Regions from separate parts of the Homo sapiens genome. Here regions 1, 3 and 4 are each linked to region 2. The links come from fine-mapping of genetic effects on gene expression. A gene starts in region 2. Each other region holds a variant in brackets. All regions are shown on one strand. Distances are between the middles of the regions. Region 1 overlaps RUNX2 (RUNX family transcription factor 2). Region 2 holds the start of RUNX2 (RUNX family transcription factor 2). Region 3 holds the start of RUNX2-AS1 (RUNX2 antisense RNA 1). Region 4 overlaps RUNX2 (RUNX family transcription factor 2).

The links. PIP is the estimated chance that this variant, and not a neighbour inherited with it, causes the effect. A credible set is the group of variants that fine-mapping cannot tell apart.
Region 1: its variant is the best candidate, but not a certain one, in a credible set for the expression of RUNX2 in whole blood (INTERVAL, PIP 0.73).
Region 3: its variant is the best candidate, but not a certain one, in a credible set for the expression of RUNX2 in whole blood (INTERVAL, PIP 0.73).
Region 4: its variant is the best candidate, but not a certain one, in a credible set for the expression of RUNX2 in whole blood (INTERVAL, PIP 0.74).

Annotation. Positions count from the first base shown.
Region 1 is chr6:45,432,862-45,440,428 of GRCh38, forward strand. It overlaps RUNX2 (RUNX family transcription factor 2), which reads left to right. Exons shown (of 9, transcript NM_001024630.4): 5 at 5,086-5,190. Among named protein-coding and RNA genes, the nearest start is that of SUPT3H, 59 kb to the left of the region's middle. The variant A/G (reference allele first, on the strand shown) is at 3,930.
Region 2 is chr6:45,324,718-45,332,284 of GRCh38, forward strand. RUNX2 (RUNX family transcription factor 2) reads left to right here and starts at 3,613. Exons shown (of 9, transcript NM_001024630.4): 1 at 3,613-3,743; 2 at 3,944-4,067. The coding sequence starts at 4,010. All of the region lies in intron 2 of SUPT3H (SPT3 homolog, SAGA and STAGA complex component), which reads right to left. RefSeq lists a cis regulatory region at 2,331-2,337, a promoter at 3,295-3,935 and an enhancer at 3,342-3,382.
Region 3 is chr6:45,576,674-45,584,240 of GRCh38, forward strand. It overlaps RUNX2-AS1 (RUNX2 antisense RNA 1), which reads right to left and starts at 118. Exons shown (of 4, transcript NR_187177.1): 1 at 1-118. The variant T/TTTC (reference allele first, on the strand shown) is at 4,738.
Region 4 is chr6:45,542,669-45,549,958 of GRCh38, forward strand. It overlaps RUNX2 (RUNX family transcription factor 2), which reads left to right. Exons shown (of 9, transcript NM_001024630.4): 8 at 2,549-2,614; 9 at 4,159-7,290. The coding sequence ends at 4,637. Among named protein-coding and RNA genes, the nearest start is that of RUNX2-AS1, 30 kb to the right of the region's middle. The variant T/G (reference allele first, on the strand shown) is at 5,236.

The DNA.
Region 1 (7,567 bases), 110 kb after region 2:
CTAATATTTCCATTTTAAGTATTTTGATAAGAAGAAAGAAAATAGACCACTTTAGAACTGAGGTGAAATAAAGCCTTATGGAATCATTGCAACCCAGGTTTGAATAGGAAATGAGGAGCACCACTTTTTAAACCATGTCTAATAATTGCTCTTTAGTTTGGATCAGATGTCAAATTATTACCATTGTAAAAACTTGATAAGGGAAATTCAAGCAAGGCTGTTTCCGATGAGTAGTGTTAGTTTACTTTCTAGGAACAGGGCCAAGAAGTTGTACTTTTTAACTTAAAAAAAATGATTCATGCTAATGAGATACTGTCACTGACATGTTGTTTGAAATAAAATGAGGCTCACAGCCTCCGGTAGAATCAAAACTAAGGGAGTTATCTCTGCATCAGGTTTAGTTAACTTTCATAAAAAGAAGAAAAAAAGACACATCCTATATCACTATTGACTGATTAGGTTTGGAGTATGTGTGTGTGTGTATTCATTCTTCCTTTTTCTCATTTACTTATGCAGGTCCACTATGCAATTAAAGTTTTCCTTTTTTTCTAGTTAGAATCAAGAAAAATGTGAACATGATGATTTACCTGTATGCTCTGAATTGCATCTTTCTTCTTATGTAATAATACTTTTTTTTTTTAACTAGAGTAATGAATTTTAGTTTTTAAAGGATTGGGTGCCATGCTTAATTTTACATTACAGATTCAAACTAGTGTTTTCATTTATCTTACTTTTGTATTATATAGATGCTGCATAACTTTTTTCTGATCAATTTAAGTAGAAAGTATGGCAAAGTGATAGTGTACTTTGTAAACCCTCAACATATTTATTTAAGAAACTTCAAAGAGAAACAAAGGGTGTGCACTGTTTTACTATATTGGCTTTCTGAGTTTTGGCTGGTTTCCCAAATAGCAATTTTTATATTTAAAAAAAAAGACAGACTTAACTGCTTGCAGACTTTTCACGCATGGAAGATGAAGAAAGCTTCTTTTGATGAAGTGTAATTATGTCCAAACAGAGCTGACCCCCTCCCCCTATATTTCTTATGATCTTAACTGAAGAAAGTAGGATTTTTCCTTTGAAGCAGCCGGGACTTGGTGGAGGATCTGAAATGCTACAGTCTGCTGCCAGAGGCAGGATGGAGAAATTGGTCCAGACTTGTCTTCAAGACTTAGATGGGGGGTAGGGGGAGTGGGTGGAGAGAGAAAGAAAAATTGATTTATCACTAATAATATATTTTTATATCACTGCATTAACATTGTATGAAAGGAAACAGTAATATCAAGCTGAGATGAAGAGGAAAAAAGGACAGAGAACACTGATAACAGATCACACTCTGAAAAAAAAATGGGTCAGTTTTTCAGTGGCAGGAAACCCTTTAACCTGCCTTTGTACCCTTTGTACCTGACCTGCTTTATAACAGACTCTTCCAGCTTCCTCTTTGATTTTCACACTTCTACATTTCTCTTAAGCTATTAAGTCTGGATCAACATGCTGCTACCATTGTATTTTCTTTCCCGGCTTTAAATATTTCTATTTTCAGTAGTGTTATAAAAAAACACCAAGTTCCTCAAATATTGCACTTTTTTTTTTCTTTCCACTGGTAGAAACATAAACTCTCAGAAACTGAAAAACAATCTTAGATTATAAAGGAGTCATGTCACTACTGACTTTGACTTTATGGGTCATCTTATGACCACAACTTTTGAAAGTGCTAGAATAAAAGTAGAGCATCAGTGGAACTTGCATTAAGTTAGGAGAGGCTTAAGGTTTTTCATGGTTTTTCCTTTTTTTTATCCTTAATCTTTTAAAGAGAAGTGTTTAAAATGATTTTGGTCCTTAAATTTTTTTTTGGTATGCTTTCTTTTTCCTGATGAAGCCATGGATGACACAATTAGTTATCTACTGACTGCTAGCTCCCTATTTGAGAGCCTACATTTTAAAATAACAGGCTGTATTTTATCACTTATGGAAAGTGATAAAAAGGGGATTTTTGAGAAAAAATTAATTTAAGGAAATCATGAATGCCCACATAAACATTTGACTTAAGAGGTGCATTATTATTATAGGATGAAGAACCAATTACTAAATTGGTTGGTAATTTCTGAAAATTTCTTCAACATTGCATACATATTTCTTCTGAAGGGGCAATAAGAAGCAGAAGGAGCCTCATTCACTTTTGCTGTAGTTGTTAATTACATCTTGATCCTTAGGGTCTGATTTTGGCAGATCATAGTTATACTTAACTACTTGTTTCCTCCCCCAAACCCATCTCTTTTTAAAAGCAGTTTTTTATAGAGAACTCATTCTACTCTGAAAATTTAAATGCTTTATACTTGAAGGGTGAATTTTATTTTTGGCTTTTGTTCCTACATGAGGCGTCACCCTGAATTTAGGGGAAGCATAGATGACTTTTAATATCCTAAGTAAGTTGTAAAGGTCTCAAGTAGAACTGTTACCAAAACTGGTTTAAATAAATTTATGGACAATCTATTTTATCTTTTTTTCTTTTTTGAGATGGAGTCTCACTCTGCCACCCAGGCTGGAGTGCGGTGGCACCATCTCGGCTCACTATAACCTCCGCCTCCTGAGTTCAAGTGATTCTTGTGCCTCAGCCTCTTGAGTAGCTGGGATTACAGGCGTGCGTCACCACGCCCAGCTAATTTTTATATTTTTAGTAGAGACAGGGTTTCACCAGGTTGGCCAGGCTAGTCTTGAACTCCTGACCTCAGGCGATCTGCCCTCCTCCACCTCCCAAAGTGTTGGGATTACAGGCGTGAGCCACCGCGCCCAGCCGACAATCTTTCTACCAGGTTATTTAGAGACATTAAGGATAACTGAGATCTGTATATATCCTTGATTTATTAAGATGAGTGCCATAGATGAAAACTGACTCTGAAACACAGCCATGGGAGCCACTGTTAGAAAGGCAATCCTGGGCCCATAGACCACTAATCTGACCCCAAAATGGCACTTTAAAATGTTTTAGTGTAAATTAACTTTCAATCTAGAGATTCAGCTCTTTTACTTTTTGCGATCTTTCCATTGTTTTGAGGTTCTAACTTGGACCCAGTGGCTTCCTATTCAAGTTTCTGGTTTCTAATTCTGTAGGCTTTTAGTTTTCTGTAACTAGTTTAGACTCCTGGCTGGTTTATTCTTCTGGTTAGTCTTAACGCTTATAATAAAGCCTCTCTTTGCTAACCAATTATAAATTATTTAAATCCGTGTAATAGCCAATATAGTGGATAAAATATATCAATGACACTTTAAAAATAGATGCTTTCATCATCCTGAGATATTGCATTAGTCCATTTATGTTTACTGTTTCTTGGGCACATAGAGCTGATTGGGACGCATCTAGAAATAAATTACTTATTAATTTTTTTAAATGGCAAGTGATCAAGCCACTTAAGGAAGTGGCCAAGTGACAGAATATTTAAAAAAAAAAGAGCATTAATTTTAGGGTCTGAAAAATGAGGTTCAGATCTTCATTTTTTCATTTATTAGTTGTATGAACTTGGGTAAATTACTAAGTCTCTTGAGGCTTCAGCCTCCTTATTTGTGCAATGGGGGTGAGAGATCTAAGCGGGGAGGATTAATTGAGATAATGTGTATGAAGTGGCACTTAATACGTTTCTAATTGTTATTCACCTTTCCCTATTCAAACTGCACCCACCCCATTCCTGTCTTTTCTTTCCTGTTTTTTTCCCCTTGGCTATAGAAAAGTATAGCCAAGGAGACTTAAAACTATTTATACTCAGTAACAAATGATGTGCGTCTTAAACAGATTTTAGGAACTTACATGGTCTAGGTTGAAAAGAAAACCCATTCACTAGACTTGACAGCCAAAGACCTGTTCTCCATTAAGCCTTGTATATAACCTGTTCCATATTAAGCTTTGAAAAGACTGCATTAAACTTTGCATTGGT[A/G]CATATTGTCAAAGATTTGTGTTTTGGTTTAATACTCTCAGTTTTCAGTAAGGGAAAAAGAATCTCTGACCAAAAAACAAAGCAAAACAAAATGAGCTTTTTAAAGGTCTGTTACAGGAGCAGACTGAATGAGTACTCTGGCCTGAGATTGCTGAATGTTTTATTGAGTCACTGTTTCACGCCCACCTCTTCCTGTCTTGTAACAGTTTGCAGTTTTGACTATCTGACATGATTAACCGTTGCAAATCTAACTGATTACAACTGTTAGTAAGTCTGTGCAACAGAGAATGGTATCTTCTTCTGGAGAAAACAGACATCCAAATATGCTACCAAACTTTTCCCTGTCTCTTTTCCCCTTCTTATTCGTCGCTTTTAGCTCATTAATTTGAAGCATCAGATGTAATATTTCAATGAAGCACACCTTCTGCTAAAAGCAAAATTTGAGTTTATACTGAGAGATGTCATGTTCATTTAGCAAAAAGTAAGTCGCTGTCAGGGGGTTATTTCAAGATTTAACAGCAAGGATGTATGTTAGGGGAGGGGTGGACAGGGAGGAGAAAAACTTTGTTCCAGTAATGATGAAATCATCATACCACAGGCACATTACGGCCAGGACAGGAGACACTGGCTCCTGTTAAAATGATTCCCATAAGAACTTTCCTCTTTTATCTTCTTATTGTAGTGCAGCTAAGCAAATGAAATGCTAAAGCTATGTGAAGTAAATAACATAATCAACAATGATTTACTATTGTTCTCTCGTGAGGTCATGACCCAACCCTAAATAAAGACTTCTAAAATTGTCTGTGCTTGGATGTGTTCCTGATGTTGGAGAAAACTGAAAGAAAAAGAACCTTCCTCAAGTGGACCAGGGTTTTGTTTTCATTACAACTGTTGCTACTGAGGAGCTTTTTTGGAATTGGAGTCTTCCTGTGTAGCACTACAATGAGGACGATGATCTTGACTCTAAGCAAATTTGGAAATGTCCTAAAGTGGTCATCGGAGGGTTTCCAATTTAGAAGAAGGAGTCCTGCCTCTTGTCTTTGTTTCATTGCCTCCTTAGAGATGCTTAAATGCAATTTGGAAATCTATGCTGCTGTGTAATCATCAACACTGTTTTTTAATATTCACTGTATATTTTCCCCTTTTATATCTGCAGGCAAGAGTTTCACCTTGACCATAACCGTCTTCACAAATCCTCCCCAAGTAGCTACCTATCACAGAGCAATTAAAGTTACAGTAGATGGACCTCGGGAACCCAGAAGTAAGTACTCCCCTTTTTATTGAAGAAAGTAATAGAGTTTCCAGAGACCCTATGAGGAATTTATTCCAAATGAGTTAGTGTCACTTTCATGTCCATAGTGTCTTTGTGGACTTTGCTATCTGCATATATTTTTTTTAGTGAGGGAGAGTTAGTCAAACTTCAGAGTTAGTAGAAAATAAAACTACGGTTTTAACCTTTGCCACACAATCACTAAGGCCTCCGTAGCTTTGGGAAATGAGTGAATAATTATTCAGTCACTGTTAACTATTTGCTAAGAAATTTTGCTCATGTACTGAACATAATGGGGCAGAATAGACCCATGAGAGCTGAGGAAGAAAAGAGCAAACTTAAAAATCTTGAGCTTAGTCAAAAAGCACTGGCATGTGTTTCCCATGGCCTAAGAATGTGTTTTAGCTTTTTAACTCGCCCACTCAATTCCCTTTATGAAGAGCACACTGCTTAATTACAAAGAATTTATTTGCAAATGATAACTTGCTTGATTGTTACAACACTGTTGTTTGGTCATGCTCTAGTAATTGTTATAGGTAGTTTTCTTTTAACAGATAGAGTCAAACCACGTTTAAATCCATCTTGGTTTATTTGTCTGTCTGGACATCCAGAAGGTTTCACCGGCAATCAGTTTCAGGTAGCGCACATAATCTACTTGGGCCAATATGTATGTTCCTTCTAAATCTAAAATGACCGAGGTTTGCTTCCCCCACCCCCACCAAAAAACTGCTTTGAACAAACTCAGCATAGCGGTATTTGAATATATTTAGAGATTAAAGATTATTTGATATATAAACCATTAACAATTGTGTGCCAATGGAAACATCATATAGAACTCTGCCTTTGCTGAGTGAATACATTGGAATCCTAACCACTGCATTTAGGGAGGTCAGTTTGGTTTGTGGTGGAGGCATAGCTGGCAGAAGTACTTGTTCTATAACAATCAACCTGCATAGACCATGAGAGTGGCATATCTTTTCTTCCCCTAAAATGAGAGAAAAGGTCTCATAAAGTTTTGCCTCTACCCAAGCAGCATACCTTCCTAGCAGTGGGAGCATATGGTGGGTCCCGTCCCTTTTGCTGCTGTCTCTTTTCACAAAGGCTGACTGCTTGCCTGAACTAGGGAGGTTTCCTGCCTCAAAAGCAAGTCTTTGAGGTTTTTGTTTTCTTCTCCTTTCATGTGTGTGGCATTCTTCCAGGTTCATAATGTTGAGTCAGTGCTGGCCCTGTCTGTTCAGTTTGGGAATGTCCTGTTAGGTGATTGCTGTACACATGTGTGTAAGCACCAAGTCTCTAGTCCTAAGGGCTAGTGGTTATGGAGTGCAGGTGAATAGAACAGAGCTTTGCCTGGTTTGGGGCTTTGCCTGCCTTTTCTGGATAGCCATAAGTTGGGGATGATGCCTTATGATGGAAGATGTCTTCTAACTTTTGGTCAGACTAGCCCCGGAATTCCTGAAAAGGCAGGACGTCCATTTTAGTAATGCACATAGCAGGATAGTTGGTTTTTAAAATGTAGCACCGCTAATACTTATCTCTTAAAGATATTTCCTGCTGATCTCAGCTGCTTTTCTCAGTTCTTGGAAAAACCATTTGCGTGTGTTTGTGTGCGTGTGTGTGTGTGTGTATGTGTGTGTGTATGTTTGTGTGTGTATATGTGTACATACACACAAGAGTTGATGCTCAAAAGTTGATGGCTGGGAGAGGAAAGAGGGAAGGATAGGTGCTCCCTGTTCTGAACGATATGACAATAAGTGAGAAGGCAGGGTAGCTTTGGAAAAGTCACTTCTGTTTCAAGTGTGCATAGCAGTACCTTATTTCAGAGAGGTTTTTGTCCAAATTAGTCAATAGACTAATTTATAAAGGCAGAGAATTGCCTTGTAAAGGCAGAGAAGTGCTCTGAAAGCAGTGAGAGTTAGGAGTAGAGGGGCCAGGTGGTATACGTGGGACCTGAGTTCAAGCTTTGTGTGGTGCCCAGGGTGGGCGGTGGAAGCAGATACAGATCTGCAAGTGGTAGGCCACCTGCCCTAGATAAGCCTGAGTAACATTTCTTATTAACTGAAAATATCGGTGAAAATGCGGGGTCATTTTCCTGACATCATAGGGTGACTTGACGAAGTCAGTGTCTGGAGAGAAGCATGGGTCTGCTTTGAGCGACAGCTGAATCCTATAACCTGGATTCTGTGCTGGATTATTTTTTTCCTCCCTGTTCTTGGCCATCCTGGGCATTGAATATTTGTAGCATAGCCCTCTTCTCAATATGGTTCTTTAATTTTGACACTCCCAGGTGTGGGAAATGCACAATATTTCCAATTTTCTTAAACAGTGAGTATAATAGGAGTTTGATTAGTTGGTGCATATAATGTTAAAT
Region 2 (7,567 bases):
AAAACTAATCAAATGAAGTTGTTCAAACAATCAGGGAAATGGTGCTAGTTTGGGTTTTTACCTGATCTAATTAAAATAAACTGAGAAAAATGCTCTTATTACAAAAAGTACTACAAAACAATGCCTTGTATACATACGCAATAAGACAAATGTGCATGCAGTTGTGTACATAAACATATACCCCATTAAACAAGGAAATGGAATACTGCACAGTCACCATAATTTAACAGATGAAACTATACATATTTTACTAACAGAAGTAGTCAATATAAGGCCAAATAGATCCCGTGTAAGCTTAAACAGCTATACATCAAATCCAAAAAAAAGAAAAATTGTCAAAAAAAAGTAAAATAAGAAACAGTCACATACCAAGATGAAACAATAAGTTAAAAACTTCCTTCGTAAAACCTCATAATCAGAACATTTTAAGCCAAATTAGGACTTCTAAAGTTTAAAAATTCCTGCATCAAACCATTTTCTCCTTTGTTTTTCAAAGAATGAGCAGCAAATAAAAGAATAGAGTTAGCAGCAAATAAGTCTAAAATAATCCTTAAAAAAATGCATAGAAATGAGCACAATATTGATAAAGTAAAACTAATGTATTAAAATATGATCATTAGTTAAGAAAATAAAAAATTACTCAAATGGTTACAATGAAGACACACATAGCATTTAAACACAAATACCTTGGTATTTTCAAAAGTTCAACCAATTCTAACACATTTTATTCACTACAAAGCAATGGAGAAGCAAGATACCAACAACTTTTTTTCTTTGAAATTGATTTCAAGATCAAAACTGTATTTCATTTCCATGGCATTAAAGTATGTGATTTATACAGTATACCTAAACTTGTTGCTTACTTCAAAACAGCAAATACTAACATGTCCCCAGAGAGGATAAAATTTTATGGGTCTTTAAAAAGCAAAAATAAAAATAAAAATAAATCTGTGGTTTTCAATTTCTGATTATAACCATGGTATAAATCTATAATCAAGAGCTTTATTTGCATTGACTTTTCTAAATCAGTATCTCTTCACCACGTGTAGTAAGCTATTTCTAATGAAACACACTGTTATCAAATGTGTACCAATTATCAAATGTGCCCCAGTTGTCATTGTTTTTTAAATTTTTACAACAAAGTAATATTTGCTCCAAAGAGGATATATTTTCGTTTTAGGAAAAAAATTCATGTGGATAATGAATATACTAACTTAAAGCACATGATTTCACTATCTTTCTCCTGCTAGAATTTGATAGGCCTCACAGAGGACAAAAAGTGCATATATAACAATATCTACTAAACTCTCAAATCCTGGTCCAAAAATTACATGCAGGAGGATTACCTGCAAAAAGTGAACAGGTAATTAAATGACAAATAGATGTTAAAAATTACTTAAATTCTTATCAGGTCAATTTGAAGAGCCAAAGTTTACATAAAGAAGATTTTAAGGAAGAAAATAGCAAAATGTTGGGTTTGTAAGATGTTTCAGTGAATGCTAATGTAGAAACTATAAGCTTATTTGAAAAGAAGAAAACCATTTGCTGATCATACTACAGCAGCTACCTACATATTTTCAATTAAGTGATTCTGCTATTATAGGTACACATGAAACCATGTTTGGAAATCCCACAAGCTATAAGGACAAAACCCTCCTTTTGTTTACTTTGGATACTAATTAGAGATACAGATAATATGGATACGACTTATTTATAAAAGAGAAAAAATAATTTTTCTCTCCTTCACATGAATAACTGCATGTTAAATGAACGCTTTTACCTTTCAATGTAAAATCTGTTTACACATACAATAAGGCATGATAAATCCATAGTTAAAATAAAACACCAAAATGTATTTCTGGTTTTTTATCACTAAAAGTTTATTCTGAAAAGGTTCTGGACATTTGAAAAATAAAGGACTAGAATCATTCCCATACCCTACCAGTGTATTTTGGGAAAATCAAATTTTCTGTAAAGAAACTTATGAACATATTTGTACAGTTATTGTGATCTAATATGAACCAAAAGCAGATAATGAATAGCACTAGGAAGAACACAGGGATATTTTAGTTCTAACACCCTCCTGTCTCCCTAGCCCTTACCTCCCTGCACATTCCAAATAATCTTTTGTAATTCACTGTCTCCGCCCACCCCATTTACTTTATGCCACTCCTAGTTACTGTCACACTAGGAAGAAGTCTAACATGCAGATTTAGAGTGGCATGGATAAATGGCAAAAAAATGCCTAGAAAATTGGTCTGTTCGCCTTTATAATTTTGGTTGAAAAATACTCCATCGCTCCCAACTGATGAAAACAGGAAGCTCTATTCATAAATATAAAATTCACTGCCTATGATATATAATCATCCTAATAAGAAAATGAGTTCTATACATACTTGTCCAAAGGGGCAAAAAAGGAGATAGTTTCCCAAAGATGTTTCCAATTTTCTTCTGAATCAGAATTAGCAAATCGAGACGACTAACATACTCTGTCTGTGGGCATTATTCCTTACTACACACAGCATTTTGTAATTTATTTCAAAGCTTCCATTAGAAACAAAAAAATACATAGCTTCTGTTAACCCACTCTATTCTAAGCTCATAGAATCAAATACTGAACAATCTACATTATAACATAAGCATTTTACTTTATAGAAGATCTGCTATCAGAAACTCTATTAATGTCTAAACTACTTAAAGAACTATATAAACTGAATACACTTCAATGAAAGACAAAAAATATTACAATCATAAAGAAAACTAAGATTCATCCAATAAACTATATTACAATCCCTGTCATTCATTTTTTTAAGATCTTCAAACTAGGCATGAGATAATGGTATACATGAAACATTACATTTAATCTTTATTGTAAAGGCCGCCATCTAATAGATTGATAATAAACTAGACAGACGTGATTTAAAATTTGTAAAAGAATGCCCAGACTAACACTTTCATGACAGCCAATTATAGTCAAGCCTAGCAAGCAGTTTGCAACCAGACCTTAAGGTAAACTTTTTTTTTTTTTACAATGAGTTACAGATTCACAAGTTTAAGAAGACAAGAAAAAGGAAAACAGAAGGAATCCAGCCACCCAGCAAATATGAAGCAGACCCCAGAATGTGATACAGTCCAAAGATGTGAATTATTGTATATCATCACTGTTGTTCAGAATTTCACACAGACTCTTGAGCCAATTTTGTTCATTTTTCCACAGACACAATAATGAACTAAAAAGAGGAGGCAAAAAGGCAGAGGTTGAGCGGGGAGTAGAAAGGAAAGCCCTTAACTGCAGAGCTCTGCTCTACAAATGCTTAACCTTACAGGAGTTTGGGCTCCTTCAGCATTTGTATTCTATCCAAATCCTCATGAGTCACAAAAATTAAAAAGCTATATCCTTCTGGATGCCAGGAAAGGCCTTACCACAAGCCTTTTGTGAGAGAAAGAGAGAGAGAGAAAGAGCAAGGGGGAAAAGCCACAGTGGTAGGCAGTCCCACTTTACTTAAGAGTACTGTGAGGTCACAAACCACATGATTCTGCCTCTCCAGTAATAGTGCTTGCAAAAAAAAGGAGTTTTAAAGCTTTTGCTTTTTTGGATTGTGTGAATGCTTCATTCGCCTCACAAACAACCACAGAACCACAAGTGCGGTGCAAACTTTCTCCAGGAGGACAGCAAGAAGTCTCTGGTTTTTAAATGGTTAATCTCCGCAGGTCACTACCAGCCACCGAGACCAACAGAGTCAGTGAGTGCTCTCTAACCACAGTCTATGCAGTAATAGTAGGTCCTTCAAATATTTGCTCATTCTCTTTTTGTTTTGTTTCTTTGCTTTTCACATGTTACCAGCTACATAATTTCTTGACAGAAAAAAATAAATATAAAGTCTATGTACTCCAGGCATACTGTAAAACTAAAACAAGGTTTGGGTATGGTTTGTATTTTCAGTTTAAGGCTGCAAGCAGTATTTACAACAGAGGGTACAAGTTCTATCTGAAAAAAAAAGGAGGGACTATGGCATCAAACAGCCTCTTCAGCACAGTGACACCATGTCAGCAAAACTTCTTTTGGGGTAAGTGTTACCATTTTTAAAATCCTGTAAGATATGAACCTGTTAAACATAAAGGTATGATTCTTTGATAAACTGCTAGCTTTTCCAAATAGCATATTAAAGATCCTAATTATGCTATCTTGTTGCATTAAGAATTGAAAAATGAAATTTCTGTATATATTTGCATTTGGTATCTGTAATGTATCTAATTTTCAAAGTAATGACTTGAAATATACAAAATTAAATTATCTCACATTGATCAAAATGTTTTCTAGAGTTATAGAGGTGAGGATATGAAAACAGTAAAAGAAACAGTTTAATACTCTCATTAACCCTCACCAGAAGAAAAGTCAGATCCTAAATTAATCAAAGCATTATAAATTATTGACTCCGGCAGCTCCCAATATTTGAGCAAACTTCAAAAAGGAAGCAATTTTACAAAATAACAGACCACAGAATTATCTCAACATTATGGTCTACCATGTATAACACAGAAATAAACCTGTAGTACAGTTAACATTTTAACCAGCTCAACTAAAAGAAATCTACTTATAAATTCAAACTGTATCCTATCTAAATAAGTTTGTTTCTAAACAACTTTATATAAGTATACATTCAGCTGAAATAAAATTATGATAAGCACATCACAGCCATTTTTAAAAGATCTTTATAGTTGCCCAGGATATTAAAAAGTTCATGGAAGTATTTTAAAACTTACATGCAACTGCATTTTTCTATGTAATTTTAATTTTACATCTACACACTGTTATCCATAGACCTTGTTATAAACACACTGAAACACTGAAACGTCTAAGATTCTTTTAATCACATTCTTGGACCTACCAAAATGAATAACTGCTGTTTAGTCTCATGAAAAATAAAGCTCCATAAGGATACCCTGTATGATTTTTAAAAGCCACAACTATTAAACCATGCTGGACTTTAAAAGAAGTAGGCATAATCTTGTCCCTTAATATTTAATTTCAAGTTACTGTTGATACAGATATGTAAATGACTTTAACATTCATCAGCTGATGTGTTATTATAGCAAAATATCTAAACACACTTACAAGATTCTCTTTATGATCTCCAACATGTTCCAACTACAAGGCAAGTTTTCAAAAATTTTTCTTATATCCATTAAAATAAACCTTCTTGCTGTGTACATCTATATTAACTCTGCTTTTAACTTACAACTAATGACTGGAGTTTCCTTTACTCCTCCTACTTCACACATTTTAACTGGATACTACTAGAGGATCAGTCTCAGTTTAGGTCAAACAGAAATAATTAAACCTGAAGGGAGAAAAAATGGTTTCTCTTACAGGGTGAGGAAATGTACTTTGTATTTTACAAAAAAAAATGTAAAATTGCTTTAGTGACTCCCTCAATAGCTGTAAGTGGGCCCCCTCAGTTATAATATATACAATATAATAATCACAGATTAATTTAAAATTTTAATGATGGGTACCAAGTATTACTCTAAAAACTTCTATATTAAGGAAGCAGGACATAAACACAGCTAGACTACATTACAACACATAGCATAATTACAGCTTATACATCGAAAGTTTTGTTACTACTACCCAAGAGATAAAAGGAAAAAGAATAGTTAAAACTACTGTTACACAGAGGGATAACTTGAAACAGGGATAACAGAGATATCAGGGAGGGATAACAGAGGCAGTTAAGTTACTCTTTCACGTTATCACTCTGTTTAACTATTTATTTTAAACACATTTTAAAAACCAGATCAGGAACAACACAAGTTTCAAAAAATTCTTCAGTATTAGAAGTAAAGTTATCATGAAGAATATGTTAAAATTCTCACAAAGAATATATTAAACTGCTTCTTATTCTATCATAACAGGGATCTTATACTTCTGTAACATTCTTAATAACTATTCAAAATTTCCAAAACTTGACAGGATTCTAAGCAAGGCATGGTAGTGAACCTTTTTTTTTTCCAACATTACAACCAGTTCTTCCTCTTTTGAAAAGTGGGCTGCACCTTCCCTCCCCGCCAGCCCCCAAACAGTATCTTGAAGCCTGAATAGAGAACTTAACATCAACCCACTACCTCAGACTAATTACAGGTGAGTAGTGGACATCATGTATATGTTATCACATTGCAAACATTTCCCCATTCTATAATCTATGCAAAGCCTAAAACCTCACTTCAGGCTTTAGATTTTTATATAATGATTATCACCACCACCTAATGAAATGTCTTAAGTATGTGCCCCAATTTTGTAAAATAGTTAAAAAGAAAGTTTAGGATTTTCCTAGGTGAGGTACAAAGCACACATTAACAACTGCTTCACCTCAAATACAATGAGTGGTGTGTGTGTGTGTGTGTGTGTGCGCGCGCGCGCGCACATGCTAGAGAAAGAGTATGTCTGTGTCCTTGATCTCTCAGCATACTTCACTTTGAGTTAATCAAAAATTTTCAATCTGTACTACTCAAAATCTGTCCATCATTTATCATAAATATAGCTTGCTGAAAATCACAGATGTGACTCATAGAGTATCTTAAAATTAATGACTCATGAAAATATATCAGCTGACTGATTATCTACATAAAATCTTTGTAACTGCTTGAACATGATGTGTGAACACTGATTTCCAAAACAGCAATTGTGGTCCATATCAATAATATATTTATAGTTTCAAGATTCAGTAGTGACAAAGTTTTATAGCTTCTTTTTAAAATACAGAGCTAAATTCCAAAACTAGGGAGCAGAATTACAAAGTTAAGAACAAACACAGAAAATCACTCTAACACATATCAAAAGCTAAAAATGTCAAAGTAATTCCCAAAGACTCATATAAATTATTTTAAATTATAATAATCCTAATTTTACATTACAAACTGTTAAAGATTTTTAGTTTTTATTTTTAAAAAATGTTTTGAAATCTAAAACACTGAAAAGAAATTGTGGAAAAAGATCTGGCTGGTCTGTCTGACTCTCCTGATCAATCCGTCTCTATATCACAAGGCATGAAATATACATGATTACATTATGATATATTTTAGTTATCTTAAAAGAACAAAATATTAATTTATTCAATTACTCTCTTCCAGCTAACAACTGATAGTTTGACTTGTTTAAATCAGTCATGCTAAAGTTAAATTCGGTAAGATAGAAATGTTCCAGTTTGTTAAAAGAACACTGAAATATTTGATGGTTAAATAAACTGCAGGGGCGGGGGGAGCTAACTCATTGAAGGCACTAAGATTTTATCAAACACACAGAATTAATATTTATTGAATAGAACCATTCACAAATCAAAACTCACTGTACTCCAATACTTTAAAGCAGCGCTAATCAATTACAAACCTTTTCTAGTGCTTCAAAATTCATGTGCTTTCAATTTTACACACTGGTGGTCCTCAAGTACTGTACTGAGGCTGAGTTAAGACATTCTGTATCACAACTTTTTTTTTCAACAAATATTCATCTAGAGGGCTTTCCCCCTCCCCCCGATTCAAGAGCTGCTCACATGAAAACTGTGGTAAT
Region 3 (7,567 bases), 250 kb after region 2:
GTGGGCCTGGGGCAAGTCGCTGAGCTATATTCAGGCCCAGTTACATTGTCTGTTAAATGGGAATGATTCTTCCCTCATGGATGTGTGTGAGAAACAGATGGTATCAAATGGTGGAAATGAGAGCATCAACAATGCCCTTTTGATACGTCACAGAAGACGGTAACTATGACAGCCCATAGACCACGCCCACTTTACGGCCAGCCCTCTCAGTCCAGGAACTTGTTGAAAGTTATCGTCTCAAAAATTCTGTCACAATAGCTGGTGCCTTTGCAATTAAGCTCCTTTGGTCACACAGGACCCCTGGAGCTCATTTGAGACACTTCCACGCCTAAGGGTCAGAAGCTGGTCCAGAACACCAAGGGAGCAGCCTCTTTTGGCAACCCACCTGGCTGCCTGTGAGGCTTCCTGGCCGGGATGCCCTGCTGCCTCCTCTTGAAATGCAGCTCTGCCCTCTGCTACTTCAGCTCCTGGCCACCTTCCAGTTCAGCTGCACATGCTCACATGTTACCAGCCCACTCCTGTGCCATTCTTGGCTGACCAGAAGGAATCAGCGCGGGTCAGTGTGGCAGACAAAGAATAAGGCTTTGAAGAAGTGCTGGGTTGAGCACGGCTTTATCCACTTCCTGGTGGGCCTGGGGCAAGTCGCTGAGCTATATTCAGCCCCAGTTACATTGTCTGTTAAATGGGAATGATTCTTCCCTCATGGATGTGTGTGAGAAACAGATGGTATCAAATGGCTAGTCCCCTGTGTATACAGCTATACCCACGTGAAGTGTTGGTAGAGTGCTCATACTCCGGTTTGCTGGAACACTCTGTTTAGGACAGTTATCCCGATGAAATCAGTAAACAGGCCCCATTTTATTCTCAAAAGTGTCCTGGGTTGGGTAATAAATTATATCACCCTGGGTATTGTGATATCTGGAGGGAGTAAATGAGGCTGGGAACTTTCCCCAAAGATGTTCAGATCCTTAGAATTCCAGTCCCTTCCTCCTCTTTTGGAGCACAGAACTTCGCATCCTTCAGTCTTGATTCACTTTCAAAATAATAATTCTTCAGTTAGTCCATTAAAAGAAATAACAGCCCCGTTTTAATTTCAGCAACGGCCTTGGAATGAAAAGACTACTAATTACTCCAATTAACCAAGCACATTAAGTGCACATGTTCAAACGCATATTAAGATACCATCTATCTCGGTCCTGAAGTTCTCGAGATGCTGGAATGCATAAACATTCAGTGGAAGAATTGTGACTGCAGAGAAAACACAAACAGAGCAGGCTGTTTGTTTGTGTGACTGCCTACTTGTGGAGAAATAACCAAGAGATGTGGAAAGACATGAGGGCTTCTCCCCAGTTTATGTTTGTAATTATTGCCCAGAGGAGACAGAACAAAGAGCTTTCTATTTATAGCCAAAGTCTAAAGGGGGTTGGGAGGGTGGGAGGAGGAAGCTTAGTCATGAGAAAACACAATTTACTATTGGCATTAATAAAATTATATAAAACTGTAGTTTATCAAAAGAACAAACTGTCTTCAGGGAAAATAAATAACTCCTTCCATTTCCTGACTCTGTATACAAGGTTATTAACTACCACTGTCCTTACCAGTGAGAGTAGAGTGGAAGTCGGCTAATGCCATGGGAACGGACGGGCTTCCTGTGGAAGCTAAGTCTGGAGCAGCGCAGGCACAAAAGCTTCAGGGCTGGTCGTGTCTGAGTACCTGTAACCAGCAAAGCCAGTGAAGGCCGCATTTCTTTAGGCACACTTCTAGCTCTCTGGTTGTTTCTCAGAGCTCAGACCTTGGGAAATGCTATGAAGGAGCACAGAAGAAGCTCAAGAACAGTGCTGGCTACTCGTAAAGGATTCTGGTTGATAATATGCAGGTAGCCTCAAGGTTCAGAATCCCATCTTGCTTGAGAAGAGACCAAAGGGGTGGAAGACGCCACAGTGGTGGCCTCCTCCATGTGGAGGAGCTGCTTTCCCAGCTCCAGGAGACAGTACCTGCGTCACATTATGGTTTGTTCTCTCTCTTTCCTTCCCTTTCTCTCCCATCTCTTTTTCTTTCTCCTTTTCCCTTTCTCCCACTTGTTCATCCACTCTTCAATGATTTATGCAGCACATATTCATTATTCATTATTTATGCAGCAAATATTTTGTTTTTTAGAACTAAAATGTTTGACCTATGCTCAATGCAGTGAGCACAAGGGAGCACATTTCTTGCCTTCAAGATCTTACAGCTTCACTGCAGAGACAAGTCTTTCCCTTCTGACATCTTTATTTTGATCACTGATAAAGTAATTTCCATAATAGGCCAGGCTTTAACATTCTAATTCCTGAAGATTCCATTTCTTTCATCCCCTCTCTTCAGTCCTATTGATTCTACTTCTCCTCTATTTTTTCTCTCTCTCTTCTTTCCTTTACATTTCCACTAGCATTTCTACAGAAATGGAAGGGTTTTCTTTATCTTCACTTTTTACAAAATTAATTTTTAAAAATAAGTATTGAATTATTAGATTGGCCAATCACTGTGCCAGGTAATTTCTATATTATCATCCCATTGAAGCCACCCAACAAACCTTTAGAAGTCTGTTACTGCCATCCCCATTTTACAGATGAGGAAACTAAATCTCAGAGAGGCTAAGTGACTTACGTAGGCCACACAAGTGGAGCTCTAGAAGGCCTAGGGAATGGCCAGTTTGGATACCATTCTACAGGTTGTGAAAATGATTATAAAGTTGCCTCCATTTCCAGGTAACTGATTCCTTGCCTTTTGGTTGCTTAAGATCTTGTATCTAACCACTGGACAATGTGACTCCAGGAAGTTCCTGGTCTAGGGCACAGAGGGTACACTTGGCAGCCCCATTCGAGAACCCATGGCATGGTTGGAGTACTTCTCCATCCCTTCCAACAATTTATCTGAAGGTCCAGAGCCTCTAATGTTGTGGACTGGAATTAGGGAGGGTCCTTGGAGGACATGCAAAAGAGGATTTTTTTTCATTCTAATCAAATTGACTTGTGTTTTAGGAGGCTCTCAAGACCGTAGTGGTGCTTCATCCTCTGTTATGCCTAGCAAGGGAAGATATGGAAGATATCGGGGAGGGGTTCACTATTCTGTATGAATGCTCCAGAATGTCCAGTAAGTGAGTCTTCTGCAGAAGCAGAGTAGAGCAGGCACTGTTATCATCATTAAGTCACTTTTGCCTCTTCCTTCAGTTTCACTCAATTGTTCTTCCTATGACTGACCTGCAAGAACAAGAATAGTGAAGAAGTTCTGTTGCTTCTTTTAGATTTATCCATTCCTTCTATCTTGCATTTATGACACTGTCCCAGACAATTATTTTAGTTGTTTTGATTTGTTTCTCTGGTTCTAGTTTTTGTCTCTTGATCTCTAAATCCATCTTGTTCTCTACTTCCCACATAATATTTTATTCTCAAGCCCTTCCTGACTAAAAAATCTACAGTATCCCATTGCCTATTTTTAAGATTTTTTTTTTTTTTTAAGACAGGGTCTCACTCTGTGTCTTAGGCTGCAGTACATTGGTGTGATTACAGCTCACTGCAGACTTAAACTCTTGGGCTCAAGTGATCCTCCCGCCTCAGCCTCCTAAGAAGCTGAGATTATGGGCATGCACCACCACACCAATAGGTTTTGCTATGTTGCCCAGGATGGTTTTGAACTCCTGGCCTCAAGCAATCCTCTCACCAGTGTTGAGATTATAGGCGTGAGTCACCACAGCCCGAGTTTTTTGTTGTTGTTGTTAATTGTAAAAAAGTAAACTTACTTATTGTCCCAAATTCAAACAATACATAAATATATAAAGGAAACTATCTCATATATATGCATACATACATACATATATATATATATACACACACACACACATACACACACACACACACACAGTCATGCACTGCAAAATGATGTTTTAGTCAATGAAGAACTGCATATACAACAGTGGTCCCCTAAGGTTACAATGGAGCTAAAGAATTTCTATCACCTAGTGAGGTCTTAGCCATGATAACGTCATAGTGCAACACATTATCTTTTCTATGTTTAGATACACAAATACTTACCTTTATGCTATAATTTCCTGTAGTATTTAGTACAATAACATGCCATATATGTCTGTAGCCTAGGAGCAATAGGCTATGCCATATAGCTTAGATGTGTAGTAGGCTAGTCCATCTAGGTTTGTGTAAGTACACTCTATGATGTTCACACAATGAAGAAATCACCTAATGATGCATTTGTTAGAACATATCCACATTGTTAAACAATGCATAACAGTATGTGTGTGTGTGTGTGCATATATAAAAATATATATATTCAAACCAAAGAATTGTTCCCTATTTTTTCTTCTTTGTTAACTTTAAATATTTTATCCTTGTAATTCATCAATATGCTAAATGAAAGTTCATTCAAACAATAATAAGAAGTCTTACAATGAAAAGCAGCAATCTCCTGCTCCATGCTTCAACAGCACAGCTTTGAAGTCAAAGGCCTCAGCTAAACTTTGAAAGCACTATGTGACTTGGTGCTGCTTGGGTTACCTTTTGAACCTTTTCCCCACTTCTCAACTTGGACTAACAACTCCCTCCAGGTCAGGCGCTTGTCTGATTGTCATTCTTTTAAGTGGAGAGTTTAGGCCATTTATATCATTTGTAATAGCCAAACTGTTTAGATTCATTTCTACCATCTTATTTTGTACTTTATAGTAATATTTACCTTTTTTTCTATATGTTT[T/TTTC]TTTTTTCTCCTTTGCTTCCTTGTTTTGGATTGATTGGTTTTATTCACTCAACTCTGAATTCCATTTTTCCCCTCTATTCCACCCTAAAAATTTTAATATGCAACTTTAACATAATTTAATTGAAAGCTAATTAATATAAGCTTTTTCTGAACAATACAAGAAACAAAGAACTCTTGAAATCTAAGTATTCATCTCTAAATTTTACATGAAGTTATCCAGATTTTAATTATCTCTTGATTTTTAAAGATTCATAAATTAGACATTGTTGTTTGGTACATATAAGTGTTTGTTTAGATTTATCCACATGTTTACTTTTATCTTTGTCATTGACTCACTTGCAATGCAGATCTACCTTCTGGGATGATTTCTTTCTAAAATGAATGTCCTTTAGATGTTTCTACAATGACAATATTCTGTTAATAAAGTCTCTCAATTTGTGATAGTTTGAAATTGTGTTTCTTTGACCATCCCTCTTTTTTTTTTTTTTTAAAGGAAAGATAGCTTTCTTTGTTTAGAATTCTAGATAGCTATTTGACATTAGTTGGTTGATCTGAAGTCATTCAATTTTCCCTGCTGGTCTTGAGAGCTCAGCTATGACCTGATCATTCTTTTTCAGACAATCTACCTGTTCTCTCTGATTGCTTTTAAGGTCTCTTTGTCTTTGTTGTTCTGCAGCTTCACTATGGTATATCTAGGCAGGGATTTCTTCGGTATTCTCTAGGCTTTCTCAATTTGTGCACTGGTGTCTTTCATTAACTCTGGACAATTCTTAGCTATTATCTCTTTTAATATTGCTTCTCCCCATTCTCTTTATTGCTTCCTATAAAACATTCTCAAATTATTCTTTACATTTTCTCACCATTTTTCACATTTCTCATTGCTTTTTTTACTACTAGATTCTGTGTAATCTCTTCAGTATTAAAGTTCATTGATTTTAATGTTTACCCTATTTATTTAAATTATTTCATTTATTACATTTTTAATTTCTAAATTTCTGTTTGGTACTTTTCAAATGTGGCTAATTTTGATAGTCTCTTTTACCTTTCACATAGTTTCAATCTCCTCTCATATTTATAAACCTATTAAACATACTAATTGTATATTCTATATTTGAATAATTCCAGTATCTGTGGTCTTTGAAGGTCTGATTGTAGAGTTTATTGTTTCTGCTGACTTTCACTCAGAGTTGTTTATTTACTTTTTATTACTGATTTTTTTTCTACAGAGCTCATTTTCTTTGTAACTTAATAATATGTAGTAATTCTTTGAGGCTCCATTTATCACCAACTTGGAATCAATTTAACTTTGTAGAGTTTTATTTTAGCCACATTTGTTGTGTATATTCAGGCCCAAAGTTATAAACCTACACATCTGTAGTTAGAAATAGGGAGGGGGAACTTTTTCTTTTTCTTTCTTTGTTTTTTTTTTTTTTTTCTACTCAGAGTCAAGACCAAGCCAGTCATGTATCTCCACCTTGTTCTGTGGGATAGATGTTTTTTTAGCTCCGTCAATGGAGTGTTGCCTTTCCATGATATTGGCTTATTTGTGGGTCTCCATTCTGATATTTCACTCACCTTGAGCTTCAGATTTTTTTCTCTCATGTGCAGGAAATGCTGACTCCATCACTTGATGATGACTCTGGATTTGGGCATTCTGATCATTCATGGGGCCCAAGGAATTACTTTCTAGATAGATCTGTCATACATTTAAAATTTTTTTTATATTTTTCCTAGTATAGTGAGGGATTTTTCTTAAAATCATGTCTACTCTATTGTCAAAAAGGTAAGACCTCACTTTTTTGCATATTGGGTAAATTATGTCTCTGAACTTTCATTTATTTCCTCAGTAAGGTGAAAAAACACATATCATTAAGATTTTTGTGAGGATTAAATAAAAGACTGGATATAAATGCCTTCCATGTAGACATTTAATAAATGATGATTGTTACTATTACTGCTGCCACTATTCTACTATCAATATTAGTACAACCTATTACTAACAACACAAAAGAGCCTGTTCTTCCATGGAGAATCAAATAACTATCCAATTAAAACAAAAATAGTTAATTTTTAAAATAGTTAAGATTTAAGCTTTCTAAACATATTTTTCATGTGTATTATGTTGGGGAGGGTCTTTTGTTTTTAAACACTACCCCTTGAGTAGTTAATAATAACAGACATGGGCCTGTACTCTGAGCTATATCTTTGATAGTGGTATGTGTGTGGGCTAGAAGTTGGGCTCCAGTCAATAACCAACACCAGAGTCCATAGTGGAAACACTTCCGTTCTGTGCAGCATGGGTGGGCAAGCTGAAAGAACACCACTTATTGGAAGAAAGGTGCTACACATATACAATGAGGTGTTATATTTATTATTATTTCTATTTTAAATTATCCATTGAAGAAAGAAGACATGGAGAGAATTTTTAGTGAGGTCCAGGGTCAAATTGGGTTCAGAAGCCCAAAGGGGAACATGGTAGTTTTCTGACTGGGATGCATGTGACCTTGGGCAGGTCAACTAACCTCTCCCAGCTTCATTCCCCTCATGGGTAAAGCAGAAGAGTGGGACTGTGTAGTTTTAGGGAACTTGTACATCTAAATTCTATGATTCTCATCTTTTATTCTCATCCATATCCCCTGGACTCCCTAGTTCACTGACTTCTAGGACCCATAATTATGACTATGTGAAAGAATACTCTTTAATCCAGCGATGCATTCCCAGAGTGACATGTGCTCTAATGTGAGAAACAGTAATGAGAGCTACAGTAGAAACAGAATCCTTCAGTGGCTTTGGCCTCCCCAACTTGATGAGATGCTCATTCATCTCGGGT
Region 4 (7,290 bases), 220 kb after region 2:
TAGAAGAGTCAATTTAAGTATTTTGAGATATTTTGAGTATTTTTCATTTAGGCAAATCAACTTCTAAGATAGCAGGTGTGTATGTGTATGTAGATAGACCTGTGATCATGTTAACCAAATTCCTTAAGGGTAACTAAGATAGCATATCCTTTGTTAGAAGTCAAAGAGGTCTGTCTAGCTGTGGCTGTGATTTTGTGATATTGAGTAAATGGCTTCTTTTCTCTAGATACCAGCTTTCCTATTTGTCAAACAGGGGTTAGATTTGCATTACCTAAGCAGCAAATTAAGAGTTTAGACTTTTCCATCAGAGTTCCTCAACCAGCATAAAGGAGTATTTGAGTACCTTGGGGGATCTCGGATCATAGCCTAAAGCTTTACAAGAGCAAAATTTTGTTGAAGTCATTTTTTATTTATCTAAAAATTCACATAAATGTTGCACTCTCCTCCACATCATATTCATGTTTATTGTATAGTGTATTATTTTCCCCAAGTTGAGTAAAACCAACCCATCAGGAAAATGCACGATGATTATCTTGGGCTTCTAGTAACTCCTGGCAGTCCCCCAGGAAGATGTAGGCACATACCATTTTGAAACTCTTCGCACCAAGTGATCTAGTGTTGGCTATAGCACTCTCAACTTCTCCACTGTTCAGCAAAGCCTAATAGCCGAATGTACTTTGTATATGGAGGAGATAACATGGATAACAGCAAAAAGAATGGACTTGTGCAAGTTGTTCCTTGCTATTTTAAAAAGGTCCCCAAACCACCTTTGGCTTTATCTATCCAGTAAGTTGTAGTCATGAGTTTTAAACTGGCTCTTGGGAGCTCTGAGCGTACCAGGCATATCACTGGGGGAGTGGCTGAGCTTTGGTTTTATATTTAGAAAATCAGATTGGGGTTGCACTGCTTTTAGAACTCTAGGCCTTCATAATATGGACTCTTAATAAGTCAAACTTATATTTTGCTTACTTTAGTTGATGTAACATCCAGTTAGTTCTATGTTGGTAAGTTTGTGGCTACAATGTGGTTGGTGACACAAGGATGACTAGTTTAGGATACAATGTCAAAATAGCCCAAGCAGGGGTTCTAAAAGAAAACCTGAGTTCATGTACAAAACAGACATTGGAAGCACAGACACAACCTTATTCAATGAAAGAAAATTTAAGGATATTATTTGCTTCTGTAACTATTATTATTTAAAAATTTGAAGATTAGGAAGGAGTTTATAGTCTTTCTTTTAAGTTTAGGATTTCTCCCACCACCTTATCATGATTATTTTATAAGGGATCTCGTATGGTACTAGAGCAAATTGTTACTATTTCTTCCTAGAGAACATGTTGCAAAATGTTTCAGGAACATTTCTTGGTAACATAAAGTGACTAAGCAAATTCCAGAAAATTCTATTGTTTGTAAGTTGAAAAATCATCCTATAATCCCTTTCAAGTCAACATTAGCGCTCTTTATCAAGAAAGAGTCCATTCTCAAGACATTAAGACTCAAATGCCTAGAAGTGATTGGTTAAAATACTGTAAACCTAGCGGAAATTTGTTGCATTGTTTTCTATAAACCATAACCAGAGCTCATTAATTGAAAAACAAATGTCATTTTGTGTTAGCTAGCATCTATAAACCAAAAAGGTACAGTGATCCTGGCATGTGATGGGCAATAAAAACATCAGCAAAATGTATCAGGTAAAATTGAGAGGAAGGAGTGGGGAGGGGTAAATTCAAAACCATATTGGAGTTTACTGCCAGGGCCCCACATAAAGAGTTTTAATGAGGCTTCTGCATCAAAATAAGTGAAACCATACGGAATTGTAATTATTACTGCAGTGTATTTTAAGTACAGATACACCTAAGAAGCAGTTTTTACATTAACATGTCTATCTGTGTGAACTCCATACTTCTGCAGGGGGCACACGTTGGCGTTTTAAGTGCGACTTCTTTCTGATACACGCTGTTCACATTATTCTGGTTCTTCTTATATGATCTAAATATTGAACTTAATGCATACAGAAGTGCCCTGCCCATCGCTGTTAGTTCTGCCAGCTCAAGGTCACCTGGATGCCCTGCAATGCAGAGGCTGCCTGAGGAACGTCTGTGGCCTCCATTTGGCCTCTGTATTGTACGAGGCAGGGCACAAGCACTGGGCGGGGGAAATGTTATGGAGCATCTGCTCCCATTTCTGATTCTGTCATAATCGCTGTTTCCACATTTTTAAATTTAAGCTTGTCAGAATTTCGTTTTTGGGAGGAATAGGTAGAGGCTAGTTGAGGATGGAAGAATTTATAAAAAGCAGAGAGTGACTGCCTGGGCTGTCAGTTTTGGTTCTTCATCTTGAAAGTGTTTGCTTCTGGCCTTAGAAGCTGCTCACTAGCTTTTACCCTCTGCTTATGGGCCTGCAGACTCTGGGAAATACTAATGAGGGATGGGAACCTCTCTGTCTACCCCTCCCCTAAGGCTGTTGCTTCTCCTTCTCTCTTGGAATTCATAGTCATAGAACATTAGAGCTGGAAGGGAACTTAGAGCTCATCCCCCTCATTTTACAGATGATGACACTGCCACCTCTGACTTCTGCCTCTGGCCTTCCACTCTCAGTAAGAAGAGCCAGGCAGGTGAGACTTTTAACAATTGCTGGGCTGGGCAGGGCTGGGCTGGGCTGGGCTGTCTGGTTGTTACTGTCCGATTTGTGAGTTTTGTTAACTATATGTTGCTTTTAAAGAGTCACTTTTTATTACAAATGCACATCATGGCACTTAACCCTTGCATTTTGTGAAGATTATAAGCAGTGTGCATTTTAACAAAAATTAATAACCTTCAATCAGCACCTTTAAAGAAAAGTGTTCGGATTATTCCCTTAATAAACATCGTAATATCCAAGAACAAGGTCTGAATAAAAATGAGGTGAAGAAGTACCCATTCATTAAAGTCCTCAAGAATTGTTTAGTGCTTTCCTTTATAGCTAAAAGCTGTAGGAGAAACAAATATATGAGATCTGAATAATCAAAATATTTTAGAAGGGAACAATATCTTAACAAGAGCACTGGTATTAGAAAAGGGCTTGTCACAATTCTGTCAATTCTAGAAAAATAATAATAAACCCAATCTTTAAAGGTCACAACTACAAGATTCTAGCATTTCAGAAAACAAATTTCCACATGAAATGGTTTATAACGGTGGTTTCATAACTTAGGCACCAGAAACATCTATTAAGGAGGCCTACTGTTAGCTTTAGAAGTGAAAGGACTTCATGTTTTAGGGGAAAACCATCTTTGCCTTCAGGTTACTGCTTCAAGTTGACCTGAAGCTGGTTCTGTAGGATGTGGTGCTGGGGCCTGGGAGACGGGTGGGGAGTGCCCTCCTCTTAATCTCCCCTAGGCAGCGAGCCTCTCGCAAAAGCTACTGTTAGCACCTGGTCTAAATCAGGTCACAAGTCTCCCATCAAGACTTGAAATCAATGATTCCTAAGGTACCAAGCCCCCTTGTGCCTCCTAACTCCCATTTTCAAAACCGACTGATCTAGTAGCTTATGACCCTCCCTATCCACCCCCAGAGAAGTTATGAGTTTCTGGTTTGATTTCACTGTTGCTAAGATGAGACCTCTGACAAGATTTTAAATTCTTTAAAGGCCTTAAAGGAAATGATAGGAACATGATAGGATATCTTTTTGATGTTCCTTCATTGATGAAAGAGCCTACCAAGAGTAAATAACAGTAAGACATTATTTTGGAATTTCTTTATATTGAGTTGAGGAAAATAAACTTGTCTGACTTAGTAAAAATTTCACTTCAAATATCTAAAGTGCAACGAGAAGCAAAAAGAGAAAAAAAATCCATGAGGATTTGGTTTTAAAGTCTGGTGAGTGAACCTATGTGATCAGAGTGTTGGGTTGGTTTACACATTGACCTGGCACACATGTGGGTTTTTAAAGCCCTCTGGGATTCTCTGGGGGTGAAGAACTTAAGGATCAATGCTGTTAAGACTGCAAAGTGGGGGAAAAAGACTGTAAAGTGACTGGTGCATTTGAAGGTCTGTCTGTGGCTTGCTGTTCCTTTATGGGAAAGCTAAAGTTTTCTCTTTTTTTTTCTTGTAACAATTCTATCATTATTTTAATTGATATTTACAGATTTTTCCCTCCATCTTCTGTTATAATTTTTAGGTGCTTCAGAACTGGGCCCTTTTTCAGACCCCAGGCAGTTCCCAAGCATTTCATCCCTCACTGAGAGCCGCTTCTCCAACCCACGAATGCACTATCCAGCCACCTTTACTTACACCCCGCCAGTCACCTCAGGCATGTCCCTCGGTATGTCCGCCACCACTCACTACCACACCTACCTGCCACCACCCTACCCCGGCTCTTCCCAAAGCCAGAGTGGACCCTTCCAGACCAGCAGCACTCCATATCTCTACTATGGCACTTCGTCAGGATCCTATCAGTTTCCCATGGTGCCGGGGGGAGACCGGTCTCCTTCCAGAATGCTTCCGCCATGCACCACCACCTCGAATGGCAGCACGCTATTAAATCCAAATTTGCCTAACCAGAATGATGGTGTTGACGCTGATGGAAGCCACAGCAGTTCCCCAACTGTTTTGAATTCTAGTGGCAGAATGGATGAATCTGTTTGGCGACCATATTGAAATTCCTCAGCAGTGGCCCAGTGGTATCTGGGGGCCACATCCCACACGTATCAATATATACATATATAGAGAGAGTGCATATATATGTATATCGATTAGCTATCTACAAAGTGCCTATTTTTTAGAAGATTTTTCATTCACTCACTCAGTCATGATCTTGCAGCCATAAGAGGGTAGATATTGAGAAGCAGAAGGCTCAAGAGAGACAATTGCAATCGAGCTTCAGATTGTTTACTATTTAAGATGTACTTTTACAAAGGAACAAAGAAGGGAAAAGGTATTTTTGTTTTTGTTGTTTGGTCTGTTATCATCAATAACCTGTTCATATGCCAATTCAGAGAGGTGGACTCCAGGTTCAGGAGGGAGAAGAGCAAAGCCGCTTCCTCTCTGTGCTTTGAAACTTCACACCCTCACGGTGGCAGCTGTGTATGGACCAGTGCCCTCCGCAGACAGCTCACAAAACCAGTTGAGGTGCACTAAAGGGACATGAGGTAGAATGGATGCTTCCATCACAGTACCATCATTCAGAATAACTCTTCCAATTTCTGCTTTCAGACATGCTGCAGGTCCTCATCTGAACTGTTGGGTTCGTTTTTTT[T/G]TTTTTTTTTCCTGCTCCAAGAAAGTGACTTCAAAAATAACTGATCAGGATAGATTATTTTATTTTACTTTTTAACACTCCTTCTCCCCTTTTCCCACTGAACCAAAAAGAAATCCCATCCCTAAAACCTGCCTTCTCCTTTTATGCAAAACTGAAAATGGCAATACATTATTATAGCCATAATGGTATAGATAGTGATTGCGTTTGGCTATGTGTTGTTTTCTTTTTTTTTAAATTATGAATATGTGTAAAATCTGAGGTAACTTGCTAACGTGAATGGTCATATAACTTTAAAGATATATTTATAATTATTTAATGACATTTGGACCCTTGAAACATTTCTTAGTGTATTGATATGTTGACTTCGGTCTCTAAAAGTGCTCTTTATTAAATAACAAATTTCTTCAGTGGTCTAGAGCCATATCTGAAATATTGCTAAGCAATTTCAGTTCATCCAGGCACAATGTGATTTTAAAAAATACTTCCATCTCCAAATATTTTAGATATAGATTGTTTTTGTGATGTATGAAGGAAATGTTATGTTTAGTTCTTTCAGATCTTTGAATGCCTCTAACACAGCTTTGCCTTCTAAAGCGGTAATTAGGGATTTAAAAAACAACCTTTAGCCCTTTATCAGCATGAAATGCTGGAGTGATGTGGTTTTCTAATTTCTTTGGGGTAATTATGACTCTTGTCATATTAAAAAGACAAGCACAAGTAAATCATTGAACTACAGAAAAATGTTCTGTGGTTTCATAGTTAAGCAAAACTCTAAATCGCCAGGCTTCATAGCAAAGACATAGTCAGCTAAAAGCCGCACATGTGGATAGAGGGTTCAATTATGAGACACCTAGTACAGGAGAGCAAAATTGCACCAGAGATTCTTAACCAACCAGCCTTACCAAACAACACAACAGGGGAACCCCAATCTGCCTTACCCAAGGCCCCACTGGCAGCTTTCCACAGAATTTGCATTTAGAGGAGCAGAATGACATCACTGTCCTTTGGGAGTAGGTCCTCTGAAAAGGCAGCAGGTTCCAGCAGGTAGCTGAGCTGAGAGGACATATGGCCCACGGGGACCTACAGACAGCCTTTGACATTTGTATTTCTTACAATGGAGGGCCAAGGAGGGCAAGGGGCTGTGGAGTTTGGTGTCTACTAGTGTGTATGAATTTGAGCTAGAGTCCTTCTGTGGCATGCACTTTGACCACTCCTGGCAGTCACATGGCAGATTTCCAAGTGCAAATCCTTAATCCAAACAAGGATCATCTAATGACACCACCAGGCCAATCCCTGCTCTCCTCCCCGAAAAGTCAGGGTCCCTTCATTGGAATCCTCCACCCACCCAAGCAGAATTTAGCAGAGATTTGCCTTCAAACCCTAACGGCCCCCTTGTTCTCTGGTCCTTCTCAAACCCACCTTTGTAGGCCACCCAGCATTGCAGGACAGCGTGTGGGGCAGCTGGACCTGTGCTTCCTGCCTGGGAGTCTCCCTTGGAATTCATCCTGACTCCTTCTAATAAAAATGGATGGGAAAGCAAAACACTTTGCCTTCTAAAGGCCGTATACCAAGTATGCTTAGATAAATAAGCCACTTTTCTATTACTTAAGTAAGAAGGAAGTAGTAATTGATACTATTTATTGTTTGTGTGTGGTAGCTTGAAGCACACCACTGTCCATTTATTTGTAAGTGTAAAATATGTGTGTTTGTTTCAGCAGCACTTAAAAAAGCCAGTGTCTGGTTACACATTTCAATTTTAATTAATTGACATAAAAATGCTACCGCCAGTGCCAGCTGCATCCTATTTAATTAAAAAGGTACTATATTTGTACATTATTTTTTAATGTTAAAAGGGCTTTTTTAAGTTTACAGTACACATACCGAGTGACTTTAGGGATGCTTTTGTGTTGAAATGTTACTATAGTGGCTGCAGGCAGCAACCCAGAAACACTTTAGAAGCTTTTTTTCCTTGGGAAAAATTCAAGCACTTCTTCCCTCCACCCTCACTCCAACCACCCCAATGGGGGTAATTCACATTTCTTAGAACAAATTCTG